Homo sapiens: one gene and its partners. The protein of the gene in region 1 purifies or fractionates together with the protein of each later gene. This does not show direct contact. Each region holds a gene or a part of one and is shown on either strand. Other genes may lie near its edges.

Region 1 (7,904 bases):
AAAAAATTGATTTCTTACAGTTATGAAGCCTGGGAAGTCCAAAGTCAAAGAGGCATACCTGGTGAGAGCCATCTTGCCGGTGGGACTCCCTTGAGGTGGCCCTGGGCAGTGAGCCTGTGGAGAGTACCCTGACCTGTCCTCTGAAACTATTCTGTCCTCCTATGCCTCTGGGCCTGTGATGGGAGGGGCACCCTCTAAGATCTTTGAAATGCCTTTGGGATCTTTCTTCCCTTGTCTAAAGGAATGGTATCTGTCTCCCTTTTATCCAAACTAATCTCTTTAGCAAACAGTCACTGGGCTGCACCCTTGGTTTCCTCTGCTGAACGTGCTTTTTTACTCTTCATGTGGTCAGGCTGAGAGTTATCCAAATCCTTCCACTCTGCTTCCCTTTTCATGATAAATTCTACCTTTAAATTATTCCTTTGCTCCTGAATATCAGCATAAGTTGTCAAATGTAATCATGTAGCTCCTTCTATATTTGGCTTAGGAATTTCTTTTGCTAGATACCCTAGTTCATTAATCTCAAGTTTGGCCCTCCACAATTCCCTCAGGCATGGACACAGTTCAGCCAAGTTCTTTGCCAATTTATAACAAGGATGGCCTTTACTCCATTTTCCAATACCACCTTCCTCAGTTCCATCTCAAATCTCAGCAGAATGGCCTTTACTGTCCATATTTCTATCCGTATTCTGGTTACAATCATTTAACAAATCTCTAAGAAGTTCCAAATGTTCCCTTGTCTTTTTGTTTTCTGAGTCTCGCCAGAATCACCCTTAATACTCCATTCACTGAAATACAGTCACTTTATAGCCTGCTCCTTCAAACTCTTCCAGCCCCTGCTCATTACCTAGTTCCAAAGCTGCTTCCCCATTTTCAGGTATTTGTCATCAGCAAAATCCCACTTCTTGGTTCCAATTTTCTGTCTTCGTTCATTCTCTGTTGCTTATAACAGAATGCCTGAAACAGGATAAGTTATAAAGAAAAGGAATTCATTTCTTACAGTTGTGGAGGCTGGGAAGCCCAAGGTCAAGGGGGCATCTCTTAAGAACCTTCTTGCTGCTGGCAACTCTCTGCAGCATCCCAAGGCAGCACAGGGCATCACATGGTGAGGAAGCTGAGCGTGTTAACTTGCTAACTCAGGTCTCTGTTCCTCTTCTTGTAAAGCCACCAGTTCCTCTCTCATGACAACACATTAATCCATTAACCCGTGAATGGATTAGTCCATTCATGAAGGCAGAGACCTCATGATCAAATCACCTCTTAAAGGTCCCACCTCTCAATACTGCACATTGGGGATTAAGTTTTGAAATGAATTTTGGAGGAGACACGCAAACCTAGTAGTGGGCTAGGACCAGTCTCAACGTGTGGGGCCTCTCTCTTCCTCCTAAATGTCAGAAGCCATCCAGGGCACTGTCCTGCCTTTTCAGTAAAAGTATACATGGACTGCCTCCCGCCACCCCCACCACCACCTTTAGGGGAAAATTCTTCTGCTATCCACCGCAAGCACAAGTAGGGATAAGCTTGAGAGGCTGACCTGGCTCTTCCTACAGTGGTACTTCAATCAATAACTCATAGAATTGTCTAAGGGCCACTATTGATAACAAATACCTTCTTTCTGTGTGCTTAGAGCACTCCAAGAGTCACTTCCATTTCTGTATAAGGCCTTTATTATGCAACTGTTGTTTGTCCACCTTCAATTCCATCCCATGTGCCTTCTATTTTTCAAGTATTCTTATAATGTCTGGCCCATGAGAGCACACCTTCATGTATTTCAATTCTGGGCATGTTCATGTATGCACAAGTGTGTGTGTATCTAAGTTTTCTGTAATTTTCAGAGATTTTTGGAAAAGGGGGGAGAAGTGGGAAAAGGACAGAACTTGTTGTCTGCCATCTCAGTACAATCTCCTTGCTAAATTTCCAATTACATATTAAACTCTTTTAATCCCAAACACAGACAACTGCTAGTATCATATGATCTAATTTGGAAATCTCTGCTTCTGAGATGATATTATATGATCTCAATTTAAGACTTGGTCCCCATACTAAACCTGACATCTGCATGACACATGTGAATAAATTTCATTCTTCATCCACAAAATTATCTTTCAGATTTTAATACTGGATCTCAAAAGTATTGAGAGTTCTATATTACAGAGATTCTTACAAATACAAAACAGCAATACATGCCAGGCACGGTGGCTCATGCCTGTAATCCCAACACTTCGGGAGGCTGAGGCAGGCAGATCACTTGAGGTCAGGAGTTTGAGACCAGCTTAGCCAACATGGTGAAACTCCGTCTCTACTACAAATGCAAAAATTAGCTGGGTGTGGTGGGTACACCTGTAGTCCCAGCTACTAGGGAGGCTGAGGCAGGAAAGTTGCTTGAACCTGGGAGGTGGAGGTTGCAGTGAGCCAAGATGGCGCCACTGCACTCCAGCCTGGGTGACAGGGCAAGACTCTCTCAAATAAGTTAATTAATTAATTAATTAAATCAATAAATAAAACAAGTTTAAAAAACAGCAATACAAATAATCTTTTTGCTTAACTATAACAAAAGAGAAAAAAATAACTTTTCTAAAAAAAAGTTGTGTTAAAATTCAAAAATAAGAAAAAGCAACTCAAAAAGATCCGGAAACATTACTTCCTTATCACTCATCTCTAAAATTACTTCAACCAACAGTCTTTTGCCAACGCTAATAAATTCAGAAATAATTTAACACTATTTGAGAGTTGCCATTTAAATTCCAAACTTTGAAATCTAAAATAGTCTCTGATCAGATGTACAATGGAAATTTTATAGAAAGATCATTACATGGTAAATTGGTTGCAAAAAGAAGAAATTTTATAGAAAGAAATACAATCCTGAAATAAAATAAACTAAAAATATTCCTAAGGATTAATTCTAAAGAGTTCAACAAAACAATTTTTAATATATTTTTAAAATATTTAATGCACATCTAACATGTCCCAGACACTGTTCTAGGCATGGGGATATTTCAATGAACAAAACAGACAAAACTCACTATTTTTGGAATTTACATTCTAGTATATACATATGATCATATAATCTGAATAATATGAACTTGGCCTTTTCCTATAGAAATTACTAATAAGGTAAATAAATGTTTTAAGACCAAACACATATCTCCCATAGCTGTCTATCACACAACAACATAAAAACATATTTGAAAATATTTATAACACAGAGAGACTTTTAGCTACTGACTTCAAAACATTAGAAAATAAAGATCTTGTAAGAGAATTCAAGTAAAGTCAAATGTCCTAAAACTTACCTGAGTTAAATGATTCACTTGTAAAGGGAGGTGTTGACCAGATTTTAGGTAAGTGTACTAGATTTTAGATAACTCTTAACAGATGTTAATTTATATACTAAAACTAAATATCCAAAATAATCCAGATGTCAGAACCGTGGACATAGGAAAATACTGGGTCTAGGAGGAGCAATATTTTGATCATCTACAGTCCCACTGTACAATATGGTAGCTACTCACGTCTGTGGTTAACTTTGAATTAATTACAATTTAAAAATTAAAAATTCAGGCCAGGCACAGCGACTCACAGCTGTAATCCCAGCACTTTAGGAGGCCAAGGCGGGAGGGTCACTTGAGGTCAGGAATTCGAGACCAGCCTGGACAACATGGTGAAACCCCATCTCTACTAAAAATAAAAATAAAATTAGCCGGGCGTGGTGGCGCGTGCCTGTCATCCCAGCTACTCAGGAGGCTGAAACAGAAGAATCACCTGAATCCTAGAGGCAGAGGTTGCAGTGAGCTGAGATCACACCACTGCACTCCAGCCTGAGCGACAGAGCGAAACACCGTCTCAAAAAAAAAAAAAAAAAAAAAAATCAGCTCCTCAGTCACGCTAGCCACATTTCAAGCGCACAATTGCCACATAAGGCCGGTGACTACCATGCTGGACAGTGCAGCTACGGTACATTTCCAATACCGAAGGAAAGTCCCATGGCCCGCGCTGCTGTGGGGAATCGGAAGAGGCACGCCATTCCCGGGAAGAACAAAAACCTCCTAGAGAGGCTTAAAAAATTTGCCATTAACACGGGGAAAAAAATCTTCTATTTCCATTCCTCCATCTTATTTTCTCACCTCCTAGACAATGTTTCTTTTTTTTATTCTTTCTCTCCCTATTTTCTCACATTTTTCCTGCCCTTTTTTCTTATTTTTCTCTCACTGCTTTTTCTAACAACAAACATGCAGTCCATCTTTAATGATTTGATGCATTTCTTTAGGGTTTTCAAAATTTCTCAATGTTAAAATGTAAGGAGCTGAATGAACATTATTTCTAATGTGTTTTTTTTTTTTTTAAAAAAGCCATATTTAGAGGAGACTGTTTTTTAAGGTATGTGACCTTAGGTGTGTTTCCCCCACCTGAGAACATTATTCTTCCATAGAAAGGGTTTCTCACCGTTGGAATCCGGGGTGAAAAAAAATTTGCAATTCTAGTTCCGGCCTCTGGGGTTTCCTTGCACCGGAGGCCGGGCTCAGTCCTCTGGGCCGCGAAGTGGGCGCGGAACCTCTCGGTCCGCCGAACTCCTACCGCCACCTAGCGGAAGGAAGGCGCAAGGGCTTCTTCGTCACTGACGGTTGCCAGGCAACGGAGGCACGGCCCGGCCCGCGTTAAGGAGGAGGGCGCAGACCGAAGGACACTGAAAGAGCTGTAACAACCCCACTTTCGATTGGTTGAAGAGCTCTCAGCCTTCTCATGAGCCAATGAGAAGAGGCACGCGGATGGCGTCAGACGCTATGCGACTCCTCCCACCCACGCTCTGGCAATGCGATTGGAGACCGCGGAGGCCTACGTCGGACCCGGAGGCCCTGAATGCCCCATGCGCACCCCACAGCTCGCGCTCCTGCAAGTGTTCTTTCTGGTGTTCCCCGATGGCGTCCGGCCTCAGCCCTCTTCCTCCCCATCAGGGGCAGTGCCCACGTCTTTGGAGCTGCAGCGAGGGACGGATGGCGGAACCCTCCAGTCCCCTTCAGAGGCGACTGCAACTCGCCCGGCCGTGCCTGGACTCCCTACAGTGGTCCCTACTCTCGTGACTCCCTCGGCCCCTGGGAATAGGACTGTGGACCTCTTCCCAGGTGAGGGAAAACGTTGTGGGGGTGGAAACTTACTTCTGAGATCTAAAATTCTGTGAGCAAAGTTGAGCTGCCACAAAGCAGGAGTGGGGCTGTCGGAAGAAGGAGGGTGAGCACCTGGGAGAGTTTGGGGATCTTCATCCCACTCACTCTGTGTCGTACTTTCATAGTCTTACCGATCTGTGTCTGTGACTTGACTCCTGGAGCCTGCGATATAAATTGCTGCTGCGACAGGGACTGCTATCTTCTCCATCCGAGGACAGTTTTCTCCTTCTGCCTTCCAGGCAGCGTAAGGTGAGCTTCGTTGCTCAGACTGAATCCTAAAGGGGTTTGGGGCCTACAACGGGTAACATTTGGATGTAAGAAGAGTTAGTCTTTGTGCCTCCCACCCGTACTTCCACTCCTAGGACATTCCCTTGGTTTTTCCTAGGAATTGCCTTTTCTGATTCTCTAGAGCAGGGCTGGCCAGTAGAATAAGACCTTCGTGTCGTCCTATAGGTGCCCAAGGAGTCCTCTTTGGCATCATCTGGCCGATATTGCTGGGACACTCTTTTTTGGACCTGCCCCGCCCCTTCTAAATATATCTTCTCCCTCCTCTTTCCTCACAGGTCTTCAAGCTGGGTTTGTGTAGACAACTCTGTTATCTTCAGGAGTAATTCCCCGTTTCCTTCAAGAGTTTTCATGGATTCTAATGGAATCAGGCAGTTTTGTGTCCATGTGAACAACTGTGAGTAGAAACATGTTGGTTGTTCTCATTTTCTAACACAGGAGTGTTATATTTTGTCTTCCCTGGCCCACATTGGAAGAAGAATTGTCTTGGGCCACACGTAAAATACACTAACGATAGCTGATGAGTTAAAAACAACAACAAAAAAAAAGCAAAAAAAATGTCAAATGTTTTAAGAAAGTTTACAAATTTGTGTTGTTGGGCTGCATTCATAAGCCGTCCTGGGCTGCATGCGGCCGGTGGGTTGCAGGTTGGACAAGCTTGGTCTAACATTTATTGAGAATTGGCTTTTATTCTGGCCTTTTTTCCATTTCTTTTTTTTAAACTTTTTTTTTTTTTGTCCTTTGAATCTCTACGCCTCTTTCTGCCTCTTCTCTCTTATTACGGAATACATTTGCATTTTTGTTTTTTTTTGAGACGGAGCCTCCACCTATCGCCAGGAGTGCAGTGCAGTGGCACGATCTCAGCTCACTGCAACCTCCACCTCCCGGATTAAAGTGATTCTCCTGCCTTAGCTTCCCGAGTAGCTGGGACTATGGGTGTGTGCCACCATGACCAGCTAATTTTTGTATTTTTAGTAGAGACGGGGTTTTGCAATGTTGGCCAGGATGGTCTTGATCTCTTGACCTCATGGGCCACCCACCTCGACCCCCAAAGTGCTGGGATTACAGGTGTGAGCCACCGCGCCTGGCCACATTTGCAACTTTTTATGTTCTGTTGGCTATGGATCAGAAAACTCATAAAGAACTTTAATTTCAATCATTTTAATCATTCCTCTTAACTCAGATAATCACAGATAGACTATATTCCCCACTTACTACAATCTCCATGAGGGTACTAACTGAATCCCCAGTGCCTAACACATAGTAAGCACCAAATAATGTTTGAATGAACATCTTTGACAAATGAGTCTATGCCAACCTTATTTTCATTTCATGAGGCAACAGTGTAGGAGGAGCATTAGATTAGGATCTCAGTCCTGCCATTTCCTTACCAGCTATACAGACTTGGGCAAATCCCTTAGCATTTCCAGGCTCGTTTCTTCAACTGTAAAGTGAGAAATAATATCATTGGCTTTGTATATGAAAGCGCTCTACAACTGTAGAGTACAATAAAGATTAGAGGTTATTATTATTGGGGATGGTTAGTGGACTTAGAAATTTGCTGGTGATGGCTATAACATTTCTAAAGATATGAAGCTAATCTATCTTTTTAAAATGTCTATGAAGCAAAATAATGTTCCTGCACAAAATGGATTTAAATGTCTCTTGCATCCTGGAAGTCACCTCATCCTGATTTCATCTGACTGTTAATAAGAATTGCAAAACTATATTTGTCTCAGAAAACAACCAGTTTTTGGTTTTGGGGGACTTGAATTTCAAAGCAGTTATCAGAAGCCTTGTGGTTATTTAGATGGTAATAGGGTAAAGGGAACAAGATGAATACTTCATTTTCAGATAAGGTTGTGGCCTGACGCGGTGGCTCACTCCTGTAATCTTAGCACTTGGGAGGCTGAGGTGGGCAGATCACTTGAGGTCAGGAGTTTGAGACCAGCCTAACCAACATGGTGAAACCCTGTCTCTACTAAAAAAACAAAAAATTATCCAGGCATGGTAGTGGGCACCTGTAATCTCAGCTAGTTGGGAGGCTGAGGCAGGAGAATCATGTGAGCCTGGGAGGCTGAGATTGCACCACTGCACTCCAACCTGGGTAACAGAACGAGAGTCTGTCTCAAAAAAAGAAAGTTGTCTCTTCTTTTCCAAACATTTTACTGCCTTTTAAATCCAGCCTTATGATCATGCTCCAGGGTTATTGCAATGGCACCTACCTGGTGCTCCCTGCTTTTGATCCCCACTCCTGCCCCCGACACCATCCTGCACACTCCTTCGGGATCAGTGGATCTGAACTTTCTTTAAACACCTGAGGGAGGAATATGGCCACTTCCAATAGTAGTTATGGTTCATTACATCAATGAACTTTTTCCTGAACGAGGGTGGGGTGTACATTCATGTTTAGTATGAAAAAGGCAAAAATTTCCCTTTGGTTCTGATTATTTACCT
Region 2 (7,000 bases), on another chromosome or scaffold:
AAGACCAGAATTAATGCTGAACCTTTTCTCAACCAAACAATATTCACTCATGAAAATATAAATCCATTGCGGGGGATGGGCAGTAGAGTACTGTTTATCACATTAAGAGATGCATTTCTGATACAATTTTACTTTTGATGTTTAACAATTACTTTTCATAATGTATAATACATTTGAAATGTTTTAATCAGTTGGGACACTAATAATAATTATGATTACTCAATCCAGAATAAATTTTTTTTTTTTTTTTTGAGACGGAGTCTCATTCTGTCGCCCAGGCTGGAGTGCAGTGGCGTGATCTCGGCTCACTGCAAGCCCCGCCTCCCGGGTTCACGCCATTCTCCTGCCTCAGCCTCCTGAGTAGCTGGGACTGCAGGCGCCCGCCACCACGCCCGGCTAATTTGTTTTTTGTATTTTTAGTAGAGTTGGGGTTTCACCGTGTTAGCCAGGATGGTCTCGATCTTCTGAACTCGTGATCCGCCCGTCTCAGCCTCTCAAAGTGCTGGGATTACAGGCATGAGCCACCGCGCCCAGCTCCAGAATAAATTTTTATAATATTCACAGATGTATGGGTCACAGGTAGTAAAAACATTTAATTTTTTTTTTTTTTTTTTTTTTTTTTTTAGACAGAGTCTCGCTTTGTCGCCCAGGCTGGAGTGCAGTGGCACGATCTTGGCTACTGCAACCTCTGCCTCCCAGGTTCAAGCAATTCTTCTGCCTCAGCCTCCCAAGTAGCTGGGACTACAGGTGCATGCCACCACGTCTGGCTTATTTTTGTATTTTTAGTAGAGATGAGGTTTCACCATGTTGGCCAGGCTGGTCTCAAACTCCTGACCTCATGATCCACCTGCCTCAGCCTCCCAAAGTGCTGGGATTACAGGCATGAGCCACGGCGCCCAGCCAAAATAAATAATTTAAATTTAAACTTTTTGTTGTTGTTGCAGAAAAGAATGTGAAGGTGATCAAGCATAAAAATGTATGTTCCCTTAGGATAAAATTCTGCCAGGTGGGGATGGAGATAGGTGTTCAACAAGAAAAAGAAACTCTGTATAATATCTGACTCTTTTTTGTTTTGTTTTCTTTATTTGAGATGGAGTTTCGCTCTTGTCACCCAGGCTGGGGTGCAGTGGCACAATCTCGGCTCACAGCAGCCTCCGCCTCTCAGGTTCAAGCGATCCTCCTGCCTCAGCCTCCTGAGTAGCTGGGATTACAGGCGCCTGCCACCATGCCCAGCTAATTTTTGTATTTTTAGTGGAGCTGGGGTTTTGCCATGTTGGCCAAGTTGGTCATGAGCTCCTGACCTCAGGTGATCTGCCCACCTTGGCCTCCCAAAGTGCTGGGATTACAGGCGTGAGCCACCACACCCCGCCTAAATACCTGACTCTTATAGAAAAGTTTGTTCATGTTACTGATGGTGGATATCAAATCATCATGGTATTTAGATTCCACTGGCTAGCTTTAAAAGAATGATATAACAATCTTATTTTTAGAGATTTTTTTTTTTTTTTTGAGACAAGGTCTCACTCCTGTCACCCAGGCAGGAATGCAGTGGCGCTATCATAGCTCATTGCAGCCTCAACCTCCCAGGCTCAAGTGATTCTCCCGTCTAATTTTTTTTATTTTTTTGTAGAGACGAGGTCTCACTTTGTTGCCCAGACTGGTCCCAAACTCCTAGGCTCAAGGGATTCGCCTGTGTCAGCCTCCCAAAGTACTGAGATTATAGGCTTGGGCCACACTGCCAGGTGTTATTTTTAAATCTCAATATTTATAAGTTGGAATATGTCTTTGGAGGTATTCAAATTTAAAATGAAATGTTTAGATAAGAACATACATGGGGAAATACGGCAGGAATCCAAAAACAAATGGCTGGCCTGCTTTTGTAAAATATTTTGTCTTGTTTGTTTTATTATGTTTTTGATAATATCTGTACATATTTGGGGGTACATGTGAGGTTTCGTTTTTGTGAAGTCTTGCGGGAACGCAGTCCTACCCATTAATGTTCACAGTCTCTGTGGCTGTCTCTGAGCCGCAGGGGCAGAGTTGAGTAGTTGTGGCAGAAACCATATAGATGGCAAAGCCTGAAATATTTACTACCTGTCCCCATAAGGAAAAACAGTGCTTGCCCTTGGAATAGATAGGTTTGTTTTTTGTTGTTGTTGTTTTTGAGACGGAGTCTCTCTCTGTCGCCCAGGCTGGAGTGCAGTGGCACGATCTCGGCTCACTGCAACCTCCGCCTCCCGGGTTCAAGCGATTCTCCTCAGCCTCCCGAGTAGCTGGGATTACAGGCACACACCACCATACCCAGCTGATTTTTATATTTTTGTGGAGACAGGGTTTCGCCATGTTGGCCAAGCTGGTCTTGAACCCCTGACCTCAGGCAATCGGCCCACCTCGGCCTCCCAAAGTGCTGGGATTACAGGCATGAGCCACCGCGCCCAGCTGGAGTAGATAGCTTTTTAAATTAACTTCTTACCGAAATATAACTTCATACAGAAAGGGGCACAAATCATTGAGTATGCATTTCCACGAATTTTCTCAATCTAAACACACTCAGTTAACCAGCGCCCAGTTGAAGAAACAGGATATGAGCAGCATCCCGGAAGTGCTTTCTGCACCCCGACCCAGTAGGCATAACCACCATCCTGACTTTCAACACCATTGACTAATAGTATATACTTTTTCACATTAATTTGGGGTACAAAACCAGGAAGAGTCGGAGTTTCTTTTTGCATTCTGCATTATATAACACCATTTTTGGTGTTTTAAATTTAGTCCAGTTTTCGAAAATGCAAATCAGTTCTAAAGTGCCCTACTTTGCTATAGACTCAACATTACTGTGATGCGCCCAGACCTAATTTTTTTTTTCTTTTTACAGAGAAGTTTCACTTCAAGTCATGGATGTCTAAGGTCAGTGCCCAACTTCTTCTTTTTGAAGTTTTTCATTTCACAAAGTTTCCTGTTATCAAACCAAACTGTCCCAGATTTGAGACAATGAAAAAGGGAATTTCCAACTTTGCCTAGTGGGGTCTTTCCAGAAGTTGAACTGGCCAAACACTGGGAAAGATGCAGTTAAGTAAATTCCTTCCAAATAGTGGTCCCAAGTGATTAACTTGGCTGACAGCCTTCCAAGCCCTGGGATTCATTTCTGTATTTTGTTTTCAAAGCACATTGTGGAGAATGTAAATTAGTACAACCATTGTAAAAAAAACAGTATGGAGGTTCCATCAAAAACTCAAAACAAAACTACCATATGACCCAGCAAGCCTACTACTGAGTATATATCCAAAAGAAAGGAAATTAGTATATTGGAGGGATATCTGCACCCTCATGTTTATTGCAGAACTAGTCACAATAGCCAAGATATGGAATCAACCTAAGTGCCTATCAATGGGTAAAGCAAATGTGGTGTATGTACACAATGGAATATTATTCAGCCATAACAAAGAATGAAATTCTGTCATTTGCAGCAACATGGATGGAACTGGAGGTCATTATGTTTAGTGAAATAAGCCAAGCATAGAAAGGCAAATATTACATGTTCTCACTCGTATGTGGGAGATAAAAAAGTGGATCTGATGAAGAAAGACAGTAGAATGGTGACTAGCAGAAGCTAGGAAGGGCAGGGAAGCAGGGATGAAGATAAACTGATTCCTGAGTACAAAATATTTTTTTTTTTTTGAGACAGAGTCTCACTTTGTCACCCAGGCTGAAGTGCAGTGGCACACTCTCGGCTCACTGCAACCTCCACCTTCTGGGTTCAAGCGATTCTCATGCCTCAGCCTCCTGAGTAGCTGGGATTACAAGTGTCTGCCACCATGCCCGGCTAATTTTTGTATTTTTAGTAGAGATGGGGGTTCGCCATGTTGGCCAGGTGGGTCTTGAACTCCTGACCTCAGGTGATCCACCCGCCTCAGCCTCCCAAAGTGCTGGGATTACAGGCGTGAGCCACTGCACCTGGCCCAAAAATAATTAGAAGAAATGAGACCAAGTGTTCAAAAAACAAGTAGATTCAACTGTAGTAAGCAATCATTATTTTGTATTTCCAAATAGCTAGTAGAGAATAATTTGAATGTTCCCAGCATAAAGAAATTTTTAAAGTAATGGATCTCCCAATGACCTTGATTTGATTATTACACATTATATGAATGTATCGAAATATTACATTTACCAAAAAAAGTACATCAGTTATATATCAATAAAAAATTATACACATTTGTTTTTAGAAAACCAAAGCACACTGTGTACTGGTTGCAGAATCAGTTGGGGAACACCAGTGCATGTGCTTTTGAAAAATGGTGATCTTTGCTGTAAACTTGACCCAGCACCAGCAGTGGCGTCCAGGAGTGCCCCACATGTGGCAGGTTTGTTCACCAGTGCCTCTTGGACCACATTCTGACTTTCACGCAGCTGCATGGTCTTCATTCTGGCCACAGGTCCCTGAAAACGGGGTTGTTTTGTAACTTCCCAAATTTCTCAGCAGTACCCCGCCCATTAACACAGATTTGGCCTGAGAATCATAGCAGAAAGAAAACCTTCATCTTTCCTCTTAGGAAAACAAAAAGGTCTCCCTCTAGGGAGCTGCAGCCTGTTTCCATGACTTGCTACTGGCGTGTTTTGTTTTAGCACCGTAAGACCTACAGTACGGAGGAGTACCACCACAGGCTGCAGACGTTTGCCAGCAACTGGAGGAAGATAAACGCCCACAACAATGGGAACCACACATTTAAAAGTACGTGGAACGCCTTCCTTCCTTCCTGGAAGGATGTCAGTTAGTGACCCAGCCCATGAAAGGGCCCGCTGGGGGCTGGTGGGTGGAGGGAGCAGAAGCCCAGGCTCTGAAGCTGTGTTTGGCTGACCTCAGATTGTGGCTCCGCTGTTACTCTCTGTGTAATGTGGGATCGTAAATTTGGGACAAAGCCGGTACCCCTCTGGGTGGTTGTGAAGTTTACAAGAGACTCTGTAGAAGCCCCTGCCCCATTCCTGCCATCTGAGGGTCCAGCCTGGAAGCCAAGGTCTGTCTTTGGATTGTTGCGGGGGGTAGGGGTTGCTCATGGGCTCAGAGCAGCCCCTGGGAGCATCTGCCTTCACTCCGGATTAATTTCACTAGAAACTCACATAGGCCGGGCGCGGTGGCTCACGCCTGTAATTCCAGCACTTTGGGAGGCCGAGATGGGTGGATCACCTGAGGTTGGGAGTTCAAGACCAGCCTAACCAACATGGAGAAACCCCATCTCTACTAAAAATACAAAATTAGCCGGGCTTGGTGGCGCATGTCTGTAATCCCAGCTATTTGGGAGGCTGAGGCAGGAGAATCACTTGATCCCGGGAGGTGGAGGTTGCGGTGAGCCGAGATAGTGCCATTGCACTCCAGCCTGGGCAACAAGAGTGAAACTCCATCTCAAAAAAAAAAAGAAACTCACACGCACGTCCAGCGTATTTTCTGAGGACTCTGAGAAATATTGGTAGTTGACTAAATTGGTAATAAAGGCATCAAGCATGAGCTGGAAAGAAACTTGGGCTTGAACCTCATTTCTGCCCAGTCCTAGCCTGTGACCTCCAGGGATGCTAACATGGGCAGTAAAGAGGAAATGAGCCCAGGTGTGGTGGCCCACACCTATAATCCCTAAAGACAGGGTCAGGAGTTCGAGACCAGCCTGGCCAACATGGCAAAACCCCATCTCTACTAAAAATACAAAACTTAGCCGGGCATGGTGGCAGGTGCCTGTAGTCTCAGCTACTAGGGAAGCTGAGGCAGGAGAATCGCTTGAATCCGGGAGGCAGAGGTTGCAGTGAGCCAAGATCGCGTCCCTGCCTCCAGCCTGGGTGACAGAGCGAGACTCTGTCTCAAAAAAAAAAAAAAAAAAAAGAAAAGAAAAGAAAAAGCAGAAATGATCACGCATCCCTGCTGGGGCTGTGTAGAGACCAAATTAGGCAGCAGGTGGGAAGGCCCCTGGCACCAGTGGAGTGGTTCTTTACCTAGCTATCCATCAGACTCACGAGGGGAGTATCTAAAAAAGTAAGTGCCCAGGCCCCACCCCAGACCAACTGCATTAGCATCTCTGGAGTACGGCCCGGACATCTATACCATTGAAAAAGCTCCCCAGGTATTTTGGCAGCACTGTAAGGGCTGATTGAATTATCTACTGAATTATATTAAATACAAAAACTTAAAGGAGATGGGTTGCAGTGGTTCTAAATACGACACAGGTAAACAGGAGGTTTCATCACTTTTTCTTGTTTCTTCATTAGTGATTCACTAACCATTTCTGTTTTGGTTTTTTCCTTCTCTTTTGTAGTGGCACTGAACCAATTTTCAGACATGAGCTTTGCTGAAATAAAACACAAGTATCTCTGGTCAGAGCCTCAGGTAGGTATAATTCATTGCAACCAAATCTGAATCCTTTTACTGAAACCTTTGGAATAAATTTGGAGCCTGCTCTGCTTCTAGGCAGATTCAGTCCCATCCCCAGATGCAGCTGAGGGTATCCCCAGATTCTTTGGGGGAACCAGAAGAGTCAGCTCTCAGCAGTTCCTCAGTCCAGGCCCATGGCCTTAGCATTGTGGACCCTTAACTTAGGGCTACCAGATTAAAATATAGATACTCAGTTAAAAATGAATTTCAGATACACAACAAGTAATTCTTTAGCATAAGTATATTCTAAATATTGCACAGGATATACTTACACTACAAAGTTATTTGTTGTTTACCTGAAATTCAAATTTAACTAGGTGAGCTGTATTTTTATTTGCTACATCTGTCTACCCTATCCTAATGCTCTGGACTCTCAAGGGGACATGTCATTTAGCACTTGGGACCAGTAGACAGGAGAGGGAAGGTTCTGAGAGCTGCAGCCTTTCTTATTCTCTCTTGGTGATTCCATGTTTATACATTTCTTCTTCTTGTTGTCAGAAAGGTTTTTGGTTTTGTTTATTTTCCTGAAAATAATGTGTTTGGTTGTTCCAGAATTGCTCAGCCACCAAAAGTAACTACCTTCGAGGT
Region 3 (7,000 bases), on another chromosome or scaffold:
AGAAGCCACTTCTATGAGCTGTAAGTTTTCCCTGGCCCCCTGCGAGGTTTCATGATAGGAAAGATAAGGGCATCTTTGTATCTGATGGAAATGATTCAGAAGAGAGAAAAACATATGCTGATGTAGGAAAGTGAGGAGAGGATTTCTAGGGTGATGTTCCTGAGTAGCAGGGGGCCGTAGGTCCAGTGCGTAAATGAGGAGATCGGCTTTAGTTTGTGCCAACGTGGGAAGGCACTAAGTGCAGCTGTGCTGACAGGTGAGTGCATATACCAATATGTACGGAAATGTGTGGGGGGCACCCAGGCTGGGAGTGGACCCTCGACACTTCTGAACAGGACAATGGCTATTTCAAAGCCACCAGCAGTTTTCTGCTCCTAAAGGTGGACCCTGGGAAACAGAGCTTTTCCTCTGGGGAAATCAGAGCAGCACCTGGCCTCAAATTATGCAAATCCAAAGCAGGTGTCTGCCTCCTGCACAGAGGCCAGGTGGAAGTCATCCGAAGCCTAAATTCTGACATGTTCTACACACATGTAAGTTGGTGTGTGTCTGTTGACTTGGTTACTTCTTTTAGGGAAAAGGTGATTTTTCTGCTCAGTGTCTTCTAGGCCCTCCAGTCTGGAGAGGACTGCAGAAAGAATGCATAGGGATAGCCCGTCCACCTCTGCTCTCCCATAGCGGGCCACTGAGCTCTCTGGACTAGGCTTCCCACCTGTAGATCAAAGCAACTTGACCACTTATCTCCCAGAAATAATGAGCTCAGAAGGTAGGAATGTTTGTTCCTATCATGTTCTAATGAAATGTAATTCCCTGGGGACGGTGAGCAAGCCCCCTGTCCTGCAAGAGGATTTGGAGTTTCTTCTCGGGAAGGTGGACAATACCCTGTCTGTCATTCCAAGGCCAGAAGTGACTGGGTAGGCAAGACATCCCTGGGGTGAGAGGAACCTTCCTTTCTATGGCCCTCCTGGTGGGGAGGCCTGGCCTCAAGTCAAGGAGATGCGGAAAGCAGTCCCAGAGGGATGGGGGAGGCAGACCAGGCACTAGAAAAATGGAAGGAGGTGCCCTGGAAGAGATGCTGAGAGCAGCCTACACTTGGACTTCACAAGACGCCACTGAGAGCAGCCTGCACTTTACACCTGGACTCCACAAGACACCACTGAGAGCAGCCTACACTCTACACTTGGACTTCACGAGACGCCACTGAGAGCAGCTTACACTTGGACTTCACAAGACGCCGCTTCTGTGCGCTGTAAGTTATCCTGGGTCCCTGTGAGGAGCTTTGGTTCTGTTATTCCCAAACCTCCAGGAAGTCTGGCACTAGCCTACAGAAAATCTCAAAGGTTCTATTTCACTCTTGTGTAAAGGTGCAAAAGGAGATGAAGCCTGAAGCCAGAGAGATGGTGGCAGTGCCCAGGGAACATCTGTGTGGTTGGTGGTGGCCTGATGGTGGTCACAGCACCAGGGGCTGCAGAGGGCCTCAGTGAGGGGAATGTGAAGCCCCCAGTGTAGCACCTGAGCTGTAGCCCCATGGAGAAATTGTCAGACATGGCTTGGAGATAGGGGTGGAGTGCACTCAGGACAGTGAGTTCCAGCAAATCAACTGCAGAGTCTCAAGCCACTGTAATTTGAGTCCTACGGGAAATGTCATATTCTGGAGTCCATGTCTCACAAAGCCAGACTTCTGGATGAAGTGGGGTGGAAGACCTGGCATCCCTCCCATTTCTTACCTTCTCTTCATGTTCTACACCCCCCAGTTCCCTAGGGAGATCTCTCAAGACATCTCTGTGAACTCTAAAAATCTGTAGAGTGCAGGCTGAAACACGTCAGTCCCTTTGGGGATGTCCCCATGTTGAGACAACATGGGGGAACCCGTGGGTGGTAACTGAACTGAACTGATGTGACTCCTTTCACACGGAACATGGCTTGGAGGCATTGCAGAATGCATCTCTGATATCTAGAGTGAGCTGCAGGCTTGAGAAAGGAAAATTCTGGTTCTGAATGCTTTCAATAAAGTCACATTTATGGAAGGGGGGAGCTAAGTGACAGGGCATTCCAAGAGCGCTGCCATCCCTCGAGATCTGCACAGCCTCACCCGCCCCTCCCACTGGGAACATCTTCTGCAGTGGAAGAGCAGCCACCCTAGGGCTTCAACCTGAGGGTAAGAGGGTCAGATTTGCAGGACACCTGTCATTCAATAAACCAGAAGTTCAAAAGTTCTGCTGAGAACCTTGGAGCTCTGCCTCTTTAGACAATGGGAAGGAAAGAGGAATTTGCATTTGGATATGTTTTCTGTGGGGCAATGCTGTGCTAAGGCACATTTAATTCTCTCAAGAGTACTGTGGTGTTGGCGATATTATGGCCACACACCATAGATGAGAAGACCAGGTCTCAGCTAAAGGTTGTAACCTGGACCCCTCCTTTTGTTTCAGTGGCCAGACTCTGCCAACCCTTCCACCTCCCTGGTTCCCAGTGGGAAGGGCAGGTGAGACTATGCAGATCTCAAGGGATGGCAACGCTCTTGGGATGCTCTGCTACTTGGCTCCTCCATCCCAGTACCATGACTTAATTGGAAGCATTCGGAATCAGAATTTCCCTTTCTTTTTTTTTTTTTTTTTTTTTTGAGATGGAGTCTCGCTCTGTCGCCCAGGCTGGAGTGCAGTGGCGGGATCTCGGCTCACTGCAAGCTCCGCCTCCCGGGTTCATGCCATTCTCCTGCCTCAGCCTCCCAAGTAGCTGGGACTACAGGCGCCCGCCACTACGCCCGGCTAATTTTTTGTATTTTTAGTAGAGACAGGGTTTCACCGTTTTAGCCGGGATGGTCTCGATCTCCTGACCTCGTGATCCGCCCGCCTCGGCCTCCCAAAGTGCTGGGATTACAGGCGTGAGCCACCGCGCCCGGCCAGAATTTCCCTTTCTTAAGTCTGCAGCTCACTCTAGATATAAGAGATGCATTCTGGAATGCCTCCAAGACAGTGTTCTGCATGAAAAGAGTTGCATCAGTTCAGTTACCACCCATGGGTTACTAAGCTCAGTCCTAGCATCATCTGTACCTCTCTTGGTACCGTCCTTGGTGCCTGACAGGACGTTAGGTGTGGCAGAGGTTCTTAGTAAATACCTTTATGGAGATGCATGGGGAATGATGACAGGGACAAGGTGGAAGAGGGAAAGAGAACAGAGAAGAGGACATCTGACACCTGTCCAAGTGGAAACTGCCCACTCTGCTACATCCCCTTCACTGCTCTGGCTACTAGAGGCCACTAGCCCAGCCACTTTCAAGGCACTATGTATGTCCACGCTGACACTAAGTCCCCAAGACTTAAACCCAACACCAACTCTTACCTTTTCCCCCAAAATCTATCAGTAAGCAAGTGCCTGGGAGGAATTCTGTAGGCTTAGCATTAATCTAATATCAGTTTATGTTTTAAAAAGAAAAATATTTACTCTCTTTTATTCTTCAACTATTATTTGTATAACTTACTTTGGATACTTCATGGGTTTTGTTGTGACACCACAGTTGACAACATCATTCTACTCACAACTCACAGCTCTCTTTTACAGCCCGTGTTTGTCCTTGCAGTTTCCTTTGCTCCTCACCCTTTCATACAGACTGCCACTCACCCTTGAAGACTTGGCTCAAATGCTATCTCCTCTATGAAGTCCTCCCTGACCACCGCCCTCCAGTAAGACTCCATCTACTGCGCCCTCACAGTCTTGATGAATCTCCCTCAAAGAGCCAGGCACTTCACTCTATTCCTATGATTTGTTCCCCAGTCTAATTCTCACCATGATATAAGTTTATTATAGAGCCCAGAAGAGGACTTGGCCATGAGGTAAGAGCTCAGACAGCAGAAATAAGAGGGAAGACAAGAGAAGGAAAAAGCTGCGAGGGCTAGGCACCCACTTTACCTGCGTGACAGTAATGTTTTCCATCTGGAGAAAGTGTCCACCTGCAATCCCTTCTCCAAGTGCTTCAGCTTGCCCTCATCAGGAAGGATGAAGATGGCTGTGATATTTTTCTGGTAGGGTATTTCCAGGATGGTGCAAGAGAGCTTATCGTCATAGCCAACTTGGTATATGCCACTACGGAACATCATGGGCACCTTGACTGAACTGTTTTTCTCCAGAAAGAAATCTTCCTCTTTAGTTACATTTGGATCAAACTCATGTTTCCACCTGGCTTAGATTGAAGAAAGACAAACAGACATGTTATCCCAAGGGAAAAAAGGTGACTAAATCCAACTAACCAGTAGTCTCTCTCCACACAGATTCAGGGTGAAAGGGGATATTCCGGGATATCAGGGAAGTCCTTGCCCTCATGCCATGTCCTGGAGATTTCTGATGATATGGGCTCAGGTGCAATTATTAGTTCCCAAAGAAGCCAGGACTAGACTGCCAAATTAAGAGGGGAAAAGAAGACTACCATAAGCTCAGGTTCCCCTAAGCCTGAGAAAGCCCACTGATTATGTCCTAACAGAGGGGACTGCATTACAATTAATGAGGGCTAATTGAGTCTGATGTGAGTAGACTCTTCTTTAGCCATCAATCTGCCTGTGGATTTTGAGAACCCTCAATTTTTTATATTTAGTACCATGTTCCTGACACTCCAGCAGTGATTTTGTCTGGACTGATGGGTGTTGGCCTCTGATTCTCACCTATTTTGGCCAACCTGTTTGTGTACATGTGTTCTGTGTGGTGTTGGGGGATAAAGTTGAAATTGGAAACATTCTTCCATCTTTTTTTTCTGTCTCTCTCCATCAGATCTGGGAAATATATAAAGTCTGATAAGGAGAATTTATATAATACATACATAAGGAGACCCACCAAGTGATCACCATCACCATAATCAACACAATCACCATCTCAGGTGTCTGCTTAAAGTGCTGGAAAGCACACAGTGCTAGGGCCAGGAGAAATGTGTTCCAGTCCTGACTGTCAATGATGGGCTTTGTAACTTGGAGTAAGTCAGTTAATCTCACTCTGATTTTTTTTTCTCATCTAAGTGATGGGAACAAAATGTCATTCCAACCTCTATAACCAATGTTGTGTTAGGATAATCACCAATAATGAAAATGATAGACTTCATAAAGCTCATTTCACATACATTTTCACTTTAAATCTCAATAACTGTATGAGTTATGTATCATGGTAACCATTTTACAGATAGGAAAAGTGAGGTTTTGAGAGATAAATCACATATGAATTCAAGGTCACAGAGTAAACAAGTGGCCAACCCAGGTTTTTAACCCAAGTCTAGTGGTCATCCTATTCTTTCCACACCAACATGCCAAAAGCCTTACCTCGAAAGAAAATATAATTTGCAAGAAGCATCACAGTGCCGGGGTCTATATTCTCGATCAGGTTGTTAATTTTCCCATGGGTTTTTTGACTGATAAAGTCATTGATCTGCTTCTGAGCCATTTCCAAATTCTGAAAGTTGGTAAGGATGGTTTCGGCACTGTAAAAGTTCTTGGCATCTTCCAAAAACTTACGCTGTGGCTGCAGCCTCTGGTCAATGAACAGCGTGTTCCCAATGCTCAGTTTGAGGTCCTGGGTCTTCTGGGTCAGCTCGTGGATGATGTAATGGAAGCCCTCATGAAGATCTTTTTCTGGCATCTTTCTGAAGTTGAACCCCTGCTTGATCTCGTCCAGGGTGCTGTCCTGGGCACCCAGGCACAGCATGGAGAAAGCTGTAGAGATGCTCAAGGGGGATAGGAAGATGTTCCTGCCAGGGTTGTAAAAGGCCAGCTTCTTGAGCAGCTTAAAGCCTAAGTCCATGTTCTGCCTTGCAAGCTCCTTGGCTGCCATCCTTTGCTTCCATCCTTGGACCTCGCTCAAAGCTTTATAATTCCTTGGTGAGAAGCTCGGCTTTAGAAGACCTTTCACCGTGAGGAGAACAGCCAGAAAAATGGCCAGGCCTAGTGTGGGGTTCATTTTCCTTGAAGAATATCCTGTTGAGTAGTAGACCTGAGGTCAGCAGAAAAAAAGAACATGATAACCCCATTGCCTACATGTTACCCAGAGGAAGACCAGATGAAAGAAGAAATACAGTGACTATTATGTGTTGTACATAGCAGTTTATGAGTGCTTTGACCCCTTTATAGCATTTAAACTTTATAATCACCCTGGGGACTAGAAATGACTTCTACACTTTGTAAATAGGAGGACTGAATGTAGAAGACAACTCTTGTTTTTGTACCCTCTTTATGGAAACAGTGTCTCAATTCCTTTGAGGAACAGCTCTCCTTCCCTCCATTGGACCACAGTGAGGATACCCCGTAGTGTAGGCATATGGCCCAGACCTACCATCATAATACTTCATTCCTTTGCCACACTGGCTGGTTAAAGATGAGAGTGTGGACCAAAATCAGACCTCTCAGTGTCTTTCTAAGGGAATGCAAAACCCCCTAAGCTTTGGGGCAGCTAGCTTTGTGAAGTAGCCCTGGAGCTGAATGTGGCCATGGTTTCCACATGTAGAAGGAGAGGAGAGTGATAGAGGGAGGTGGAAAGACAGAAATGGACTGACACATCTGATGACATCTTTGGAGACCCTGGACTAACCTTTAACTCAGTTTGCTACCCACTTCCATGTTTCCAAGTTATGAAAGCCAATAAATTTCCCTTTTAGAGTTGGCTGGTTTGAGGTAAATTTTTCCCCTTCAGCCAAAAGAATTATGACTAATTTACAGAGATCAAGCTCTTTGTTTAAGCTCATATGTTCTCTAGGTGGTGGATACTCATTCCAGGAGGACTTAGATCTCCAGGAAACCTTCTTCCCTACACCCTTCCCAGGGAGGGAAGAGGATGGCACCATGGGAGAGGAACAGCCAGGTCTGCCTGGCTCTGGACTGCTGCTCCTTTCATCCACCTCTCAGCTTTGACATCTTCCAACGGCCACTGTGAGCTTCTGGGAGACAAGACTTTTAGCTACGTTTTCCCTTAATCTCCAGCCCTAATTCTGCAGAGAGATGCTAAAAGCATGTTGGCCTAAAAAGCTTATTGATTT

Evidence for each region. Proteins that work in one complex are often made in the same cells at the same time.
Region 2: the proteins of TCTN3 (region 1) and CTSH purify together in Homo sapiens (affinity purification with mass spectrometry; 2 studies listed by BioGRID and IntAct, with this or other methods). This does not show direct contact.
Region 3: the proteins of TCTN3 (region 1) and SERPINA12 purify together in Homo sapiens (affinity purification with mass spectrometry; 2 studies listed by BioGRID and IntAct, with this or other methods). This does not show direct contact.

Annotation. Positions count from the first base shown.
Region 1 is NC_000010.11:95,690,860-95,698,763, reverse strand, and holds the start of TCTN3 (tectonic-3 isoform a precursor), read left to right. Parts: upstream 1-4,836; 5' UTR 4,837-4,864; coding exon 4,865-5,120; intron 5,121-5,287; coding exon 5,288-5,411; intron 5,412-5,725; coding exon 5,726-5,844; intron 5,845-7,904.
Region 2 is NC_000015.10:78,935,047-78,942,046, reverse strand, and holds part of CTSH (pro-cathepsin H isoform a preproprotein), read left to right. Parts: intron 1-2,875; coding exon 2,876-2,907; intron 2,908-4,223; exon of another isoform or gene 4,224-4,292; coding exon of another isoform or gene 4,293-4,361; intron 4,362-4,623; coding exon 4,624-4,729; intron 4,730-6,296; coding exon 6,297-6,367; intron 6,368-6,964; coding exon 6,965-7,000. UniProt on the Homo sapiens protein: Important for the overall degradation of proteins in lysosomes.
Region 3 is NC_000014.9:94,492,470-94,499,469, forward strand, and holds part of SERPINA12 (serpin A12 precursor), read right to left. Parts: intron 5,962-7,000; 5' UTR 5,929-5,961; coding exon 5,295-5,928; intron 4,175-5,294; coding exon 3,904-4,174; intron 1-3,903. UniProt on the Homo sapiens protein: Adipokine that modulates insulin action by specifically inhibiting its target protease KLK7 in white adipose tissues.